2 linked regions of the Homo sapiens genome follow. Each later gene encodes a partner of the first gene's protein in a complex. Each region holds a gene or a part of one and is shown in the gene's direction. Other genes may lie near its edges. The genes, in order: CIRBP and TNPO3.

Region 1 (3,908 bases):
CTGGGAGTCACGGGTGCTCGCAGACGCAGCTGACCCCAGAGGCACAGGTACCGACACAGGTCCACACCTGGAAGCCGGTGCACAGTGCTCGGCACAGATGCAAAGCGGCAGGTGTGCGCAGGTGCGTGTCAACGCCACCCTGGGAACCCAGGATGGCTGCGGACACTCACGGAGCCCGCACCCAGGAACCCGCTCGTAGTAAGCGCTTAATAACTAGGCACTGGCTGAATGAATGAATGAATGAATGAACACGGCGCTTCGCAAAACCAGGAAAAGGCAGAGGCTCACAGAACCAGGGAACGATGGGCTGGGGGGAGCGGCAAGAATTACGCAATTATGCAGGGGCCGCTGTGACTACCAGGCACCCCCTCCAACTCCCCCCCTACAAGGGCTGCTCTGGGTCAGAGAACGTCCACCGCGCTGACTGCTGGGGCTGGGGGCTGGGGGCGCAGATCAGAAAGAATGGGCCTGAATTGCTCCCAGGCTGGGCATGTGGCGCCCGCGTCTGGGGCTCCAGTGGGTGGGTGGCCCCTCCCGCATGGACGGCGGGCGCAGGGGAGCTCGGTGCTGATGTCTCTCTCCTTTAATAACCACCCTGCGTGAGTGGCTGACGCAGCAGCCGGCTGCCGCTGACGGGGAGTGGGGCGGCTGTAGTGGGGGGGCCCGAGGTGCAGAGGGGGTGGTGATGAATCACACAGCTGCTGCCTGGGGGAGGGGGTCTTGAGCCCATGAGGGGTCCCAGAGACCTTGTCACTGGAGACAGCGCCCCTGGCTACCCCCACCTCGATCCACTTGAGGGTGGAAGTGAGTCTGAGGTCAGGAGTGGGGCCGGGATTTCCCTGGGATGAGCAGCAAAGCGGGGGTCTCTGTACGCCAACTTCCCCCAGCTTGTCAGCAGAGGGTCATCCCTCCGAAGACTTTCTGGGGCAGAGAGGCAGGGGTCCGCGCTGGCTTCTTCCACCAGGGCTGGGGGAGGCGGCGGCATGAGATGACTCCTGGGCGAGGAGCAAGTGGTGGCCATAGAGGGCCCCCCAGAGGCTTTGGGGCCGCCGAAGAGTAGTGAGTGAGGGTCCTTGTAAAGCTGGTTCTCCAGATGGCGGCGGCTTTAAGACTCCCCTCCGCCAACCAGGCTCAGTAGGGGAGGCCTGTGGAAGGAGAGAAAAGGCCTGGGTGGAGGAGCAGAGTGGGCCTGGCCCCGCGTGGGGAGCGAGTGCGCCGTTGCTGTGCAGCACGGTGGGAGGGGAGGCCGAGGGCCGGGCGGAGTGCTGGGGTGCAGTGGGGACTCGGGGTGTCCGCCTGCACCCGACAGCAGGGACGCACAACACTATCCGGCCAGGCGAGTGTGGGGGTGTGGGCCACGCACCCAGCCGTGATAATCGCGGTTCCAGTGGGAGTTAGGCTTGGGTGCGGGTTGGAGTTTGTAGGCAAACTGGGTTGCGTAAAGTTGGGGTGCACCAAAGTGTGGCGATGTAGGAAGAATTGGGATTGCGAATATTGGGGTTCGCATGAATGGGGTTGTCTCTGTTGGGGTTTTGGTGGGCATGGGGTTGATGGCAGGAATGGAGTGCTGGGGTGCTGGGAAAACTGGGACGTCGGTTGTATTGGCAAGAATATCACGACAGGTGTCGGGGTTCAGATGAAGTTGGGATGTCTGACAGCCGGGTCTTGGTTGGGTAGGGGATCTGGGCTAGGTTGTTATGTCGGGACTGCTGGAGCACAGGCAAAGTCGGGGTCCCAGTGACACCCAGAAGTCCCCATGAGGCCTGAGGCCTGGGAATCGGGGCTAGAGGCCCATTTGTTCCCCGCCGCAGGCCAGGGAGCAGGCACGCGTAACTGGGTCAGCCCCGCCCCGCCCCGCCGCGCGCTGGTCACGCCCCCTCGAGCGCGGGTGGAGGACTGCGGACTGCAAACGTCTCGGCCAATAGTCGAGCCCGACACCAGTCCGCGGGAGGGGGCGGAACCGAGATAGACTCGGCCCCCAGCTCATGAATATAAGACGCAGGCGCGCCCTCTGATTGGCCCAGGATGTGTAGGGGGCGGGGCCCGGCGGAAGCGTATATAAGGCCGGGCTCGGGGACGCCCCCCCCTCACTCGCGCGTTAGGAGGCTCGGGTCGTTGTGGTGCGCTGTCTTCCCGCTTGCGTCAGGGACCTGCCCGACTCAGTGGTGAGGGCCCTGGCTGCACCGGCTCCGAGGAGCTCGGGGCGGCGGGCGGCCTGCGGCGGCCAGGCGAGGCGGGGCCGCAGCGGCACGCCCCTGGGAGGGGGCGGGCCCGGGGTGGAGTCCGCCCCGCCGGCGGCGAGGGACAGCGGGAGATTGGGCCGAGTAGCGGCCAGAGGGCCTCTCCCCGCCGGTCCGGGCCGCCGGCGACCCGGTTGCCGCCGCAAAATGGCGGCCGCGAGCTCGAGGCTGTGCCCAGCGAAATGGCGGGAGCGCCGAGTTCCCGGATGGAGTGGCGCAGGGTGCGCGCGGGGCGCATGCGCACGCGGCGGGGGCGGGGCCACGTGGCGCCCCCGGTCTCCAGGGCCGCTTTCCCGGCCTTGGGGCTGGAGGTATCCACACACCAACGCTTTTGCTTACCGAGCCTTAGTTTCCTCCTTTTCCCATTGCGATTGCATGAGGGAAAGGACGGCCTCGTAAATCTTGGGTAGGCGTGGCCCGTTCTAGTGTGGTTCCTCGTCTGCCACGTCGTGCTTTGCGCCCAAAGTTTGGTCCAAGTTGGCACAGCTCCCAGTGCCAGACTTCCAAGTCTAGTTCTCAGAGCCACTGGGTGGCGGCCATTCCCAGCCAGTGAATGCTTTGTCTGTGTCAGCACTGACCGCCCCCTTAAATAGCCAGTTCTCCTAAATGCCACTTCCCCTGCCTGGAAATCCTGCCTTATCACTTCCGGGGCCATCCCTTCCCGATTCCCGGCCTAGGTCCTGGCTATGGAAGTCAGTACCTGCCCTGAGGTGCCCCCCAGGACGGGGCGGCCTCCCTGACAGCCAGCCCCCCCCCCAGTCTCAGGAGGCATTTTACAGTGAGCAGAAGCACGTTCTGGTCCAGCAACAAGTAGATGTCAGTTGGTTAGGGTAGGAGTTGGCACCCGTTCGGAAATAGGAGAACCTGAGAGTGCAGTCCTGCCCAGGGCACAACTGGAAGGCTGTGGGGGAAGGGAGACACCCATTGTGGAAATGGGTGCGGCCTGCCTTCAGTCTTGGGGGTGGATGGAGTAAATTATTTGAATTAAGAAGTCCTAGGTGGCTGGGTGCGGTGGCTCACACCTGTAATCCCAAAACTTTGGGTGGCCAAGGTGGGAGGATTGCTTGAGCCCAGGAGTTTCAGACCAGCCTGGGCAACAGAGCAAGACCCCATCTCTACTAAAACAAATTTAAAAAAATTATCCAGGCGTGGTGGTGTACACCTACAGTCCCAGTTTCTTGGGAGGCTGAGGTAGGAGGATTGCTTGAGCCCAGGAGGTGGAGGCTGCAGTGACCCCTGCACTCCAGTCTGGGTGACAGTTAGACACACTGCCCCCGACCCCAAAAAAATAAGTCCTAGGTATGAGTTTGAGATAATGAAAAATAAAAATCTGATTTTCTAATATTTCCCCTAAAAAACACATGTCATTTACATAAAATAGGAAGCGGGGAGAGGTGGTGAGAGATGACCCCTGTTGAGGATTTCATTGGTGTCTGCCACAGGCCGCCATGGCATCAGATGAAGGCAAACTTTTTGTTGGAGGGCTGAGTTTTGACACCAATGAGCAGTCGCTGGAGCAGGTCTTCTCAAAGTACGGACAGATCTCTGAAGGTGAGGCTGCTGCTGGGCCCGCGGCCCTGGGCGGGGGGGCTTGTGCTCCTCCTACCTGGAAGTACAGCTGGGTGCTGACTGCAGACCTCTCTCCCCTGCACAGTGGTGGTTGTGAAA
Region 2 (3,908 bases), on another chromosome or scaffold:
CTAAAACTTTGAGATGACATCTGTTGAGTTTTATCAGCTAAAATCTGTTTTCTCAACCCTTTCTTAAATGTGGACTTCATAGGTGAAAACTGTTTATGTCAACTGGGAAGGATTTATGTGTTTCTTTTCCTGATCAGATTCTCATTACAATCTTTTTCTTTTCCCAGCTGTGCTTTTCTTCTTTGTTCCTTTTGTACTTATTGTAATAAATATTTGGCAAGTCTGAATGCTGTGGCATTTCTGAAAAAGCATTTCTTTTAAAATCACTGTTTTGTTTTAGGCACTGTGCATCCCCACCTTTCAGCTCCTAGAACAGCAGAATGGTCTCCAGAATCACCCTGACACTGTAGATGACCTGTTCCGGCTAGCCACCAGGTAAATCCTTCTGAAGAGCCCATTTCTTAATTGCTCATCCTATCACTGCTTAGTCTTGCCATCTGACCCTTGGTTGTTTTATTCTTGTAAAATGAAGTCACTGGAGTAAGTAGATTAATGATTCATAACCCAAAGGTAAATTGCAAGCTGATATATCCCCAGCAGTGACGCAGAGTATTGCGGGAAGCAAGGGATAAAGGAGCTGAGTTCCTGCCAGGAAGGAGGGCTCACACACAAGACAATGCAGTGTGCCTGGCAAAACACTTGACTAGATCATCTCTACAGTCCTCTGTAGGTTTTAACTGTTCGTGCTGTTGCGATTTCATGTTTCACCTCAACCTTCTCTTTGAGAAGCTTAGCATCCTTTAGATATAATCAGTTTCGGAATAAAGAATGTTTGGGATTTTAAGATGCCTTAGCAGTTATCTCATACTGTATTTCTCAGCTCTACTCACAGCCTACTTTATCAGTAGCACTGATAATATGATTGCCAAACTTCTGCTTGAATTCCTTAGTCCCTAACTAAGGAATTTGAACCAAAACTGTTACCATATCAGCATTAAAAAAAAAAAAAAAAGAAAAATCATTATTTTCGAAACAACAAAAGCCCAACTGTTATATCATTTACAAATGCAAAGTAATGTTGACTTGATTGTTTCATCTTAGGATTGATTTTTTTTCTTTTTTCTTTTTTGAGATGGACTCTCACTCTGTTGCCCAGGCTGGAGTGCAATGGCATGATCTCGGCTCACTGCAACCTCTGCCTCCTGGGTTCAAGTGATTCTCCTACCTCAGCCTCCCGAGTAGTTGGGATTACAGGTGCCCACCACCATGCCCAGCTAATTTTTGTATTTTTAGTAGAGACGGGGTTTTGCCATGTTGATCAGGCTGGTCTCAAACTCCTGGCCTCAGGTGATCCGCCCACCTTGGCCTCCCAAAGTCCTGGGATTACAGGCGTGAGCCACCGTACCTGGCAGGATTGAATATTGAACCCTTTTTTTTTGTTAGTTTTTGGATAGGTTAGAAAAACCCTTTTTTTTTCCTTTTCTTTTTTTTTTTTTTTCAGTTGATAGAATTGTTGGATGGGCTGTCACCCTCTGTTTTCTTTTTTTTTTTTTTTTTTTTTTTTTTTGAGACGGAGTCTCGCTCTGTCGCCCAGGCTGGAGTGCAGTGGCGTGATCTTGGCTCACTGCAAGCTCTGCCTCCTGGGTTCACGCCATTCTCCTGCCTCAGCCTCCCGAGTAGCTGGGACTACAGGCACCCGCCACCACACCCAGCTAATTTTTTGTATTTTTAGTAGAGACGGGGTTTCACTGTGTTAGCCAGGATGGTCTCGATCTCCTGACCTCGTGATCCACCCTCCTCGGCCTCCCAAAGTGCTGGGATTACAGGCCTGAGCCACCACGCCCGGCACACCCTCTGTTTTCTTAGGGTATGTATTCCTTGGAAAACTAGTCCCTAAAAATGTTCTTTATACAAATGATGAAACAAGTTTGGAGTATACTGTACCTTTTTCTGAAGAGATTCTCCCTGTATATTAAAGGAACTTAGAAACCTGATAGTAGTTTAAAGGAAAAAATAAACAAGCAAAACTACTTTCAAAATCCAGCAGCATTTCCCAAGCTTACCTGAACACACAACCTTTTCTTTGAGGGATTCCTGTTGACATCCTGGGAACTGGAATTCTGTGAACTTTAGTTTGGGAAATGCTGTTCTAGCATCTTTAGGACTTTTTAACCTAGGAGAGTTTCTACTTGTAGGTCCTTTTGACTGGTCTTTCTTGATTTATAAAATCTTAGTTGGAAATAGGATGTGGTGACACGTCTTTTAATATACTAATCTTAAGATATGGTCCTTTTTTTTTAAAGAGCAACTTTAGGTTCACTGCAAATTTGAGTGAAAAGTTGCTCCCATATACCCCTCCCTCCTAACACACACAGCCTTCCCCTCTATTAGCATCCCCCACCAGAGTAATACAAACAGTGACCCTATATGAACACATCATTATCACCCAAAGTCCATAGTTTACATTAGGCTTCACTCTTGGTGTACATTCTGTGGGTTTTGACAAATGTGTAATGACATGTATCCACTGTTATAGTATCATACAGAATACTTTCACTGCCAAAAAAAATCCTCTATGTTCTGTCTATTCATCCCTTCTTCCCTGAAACCCCCCACCAACCACTGATCTTTTTTACTGTCTTCATAGTTTTGCCCTTTTACCCTGGCTGCTTTTATAGCCTAATCTTGTCATTTATACCTAGTCTCACTTTCCACACCAGGTTTATTCAGCGTAGCCCTGTCACCTTGCTGCGGAGCCAAGTGGTCATCCCTATCTTACAGTGGGCCATTGCCTCTACTACCCTGGACCACCGGGATGCCAATTGTAGTGTCATGAGGTTTCTACGAGACCTCATTCATACAGGGGTAGCCAATGATGTAAGTATAAAAATGATACCATTTCTACTTAACAGCTTTTATCTCCTATCTCTTTGTCATTCCTTAGGAGAAAACCAGCATCCCAGTATTTCCTTACTTGATCTATATTGGTAGACATATATCATAGTGGATCATTCACTAGCCAAAATATCAACTAAGACACTTGTGCTGGGTGCTTTAGGCTATATAAAGCAGTCTAAAACTGTTCATGCTCCCAAATCATTTGGTGTCTAGTTGAAGAGAGAAACAAGTTTAAAGAGTTAAGTAACAACAAGATGCCAGTGTTTGGTGTTTTTCATTTGTTTTTGAAACAGGGTCTTGCTCTGTCGCCTAGGCTGGAGTACAGTGATGTGAATCTCAAGGGATCCTCAGCTACTGAGTAGCCAGGACTACAGACATTCAACACCATGCCTGGCTAGTTTTTATATTTTTTGTAGAGATGGCATTTCACCATGTTGCCCAGGTTGGTCTTGAACTCCTGGCCTCAAGTGATCCTCCCACCTTGGCCTCCAGTATTTGATTGTCAGATGAGTGATAAAAGTCATGATTGGTATGAGATCAGACGAGGGAAAGCTCTAGACCAAAAAGAGTTGGAATAACTTTATGGAAGGGGAGGGATTTAAATGAAGCCATGAATTAGAGGTAGAATTTTGATGGATTAGAGAGGCAGATAGTCATACTGCCTCTAAGCCAAGATCAGAGCAAGTCAGAATAGTACTAAGTTTGTTAGTAGACAACTAAGCAGTGGGAGTAGTAAAGTGCTTCACAGGAATTTCGAAGGTAGGTTTGATTAGATGTGGAGTAGAATTGTAGACAGGGGAGAGCAGTGAAGAAGTAAGTATTCTGCATTCTATTTAGGCTATTCATTTAAGAAGTTTGGCAGTAAAAGAGAGAAGAAAATAACTAGAAGGGAAAGGCAATTTAAAAAATATTTTTCTCAAGGTATTAGAAATACATGTGTATTTAAAGACCACAAGAAGGGCCAGGCGCAGTGGCTCACGCCTGTAATCCCAGCACTTTGGGAGGCCAAGGCGTGCAGATCACTTGAGGTCAGGAGTTCAAGACCAGCCTGGCCAACATGGTGAAACCCT

Evidence for each region.
Region 2: the proteins of CIRBP (region 1) and TNPO3 are in contact, whole or in part, in a crystal structure (PDB 8CMK), measured with the Homo sapiens proteins. Residues at the interface, in NP_001271.1 of Homo sapiens: Tyr160, Arg161, Ser163, Tyr164, Asp165, Ser166, Tyr167, Ala168; in NP_036602.1 of Homo sapiens: Arg620, Glu660, Arg661, Cys663, Arg664, Arg667, Phe668, Arg671, Ser698, Cys699, Tyr702, Ser705, Ile706, Asp709, Glu710, Asp747 (codon at 341), Asp750 (codon at 350), Asp751 (codon at 353), Arg754 (codon at 362), Arg758 (codon at 374).

Annotation. Positions count from the first base shown.
Region 1 is NC_000019.10:1,267,246-1,271,153, forward strand, and holds the start of CIRBP (cold-inducible RNA-binding protein), read left to right. Parts: upstream 1-2,086; 5' UTR 2,087-2,165; intron 2,166-2,579; exon of another isoform or gene 2,580-3,015; intron 3,016-3,621; exon of another isoform or gene 3,622-3,682; 5' UTR 3,683-3,688; coding exon 3,689-3,791; intron 3,792-3,894; coding exon 3,895-3,908. UniProt on the Homo sapiens protein: Cold-inducible mRNA binding protein that plays a protective role in the genotoxic stress response by stabilizing transcripts of genes involved in cell survival. Acts as a translational activator.
Region 2 is NC_000007.14:128,971,335-128,975,242, reverse strand, and holds part of TNPO3 (transportin-3), read left to right. Parts: intron 1-280; coding exon 281-375; intron 376-2,660; coding exon 2,661-2,817; intron 2,818-3,908. UniProt on the Homo sapiens protein: Importin, which transports target proteins into the nucleus. Specifically mediates the nuclear import of splicing factor serine/arginine (SR) proteins, such as RBM4, SFRS1 and SFRS2, by recognizing phosphorylated SR domains.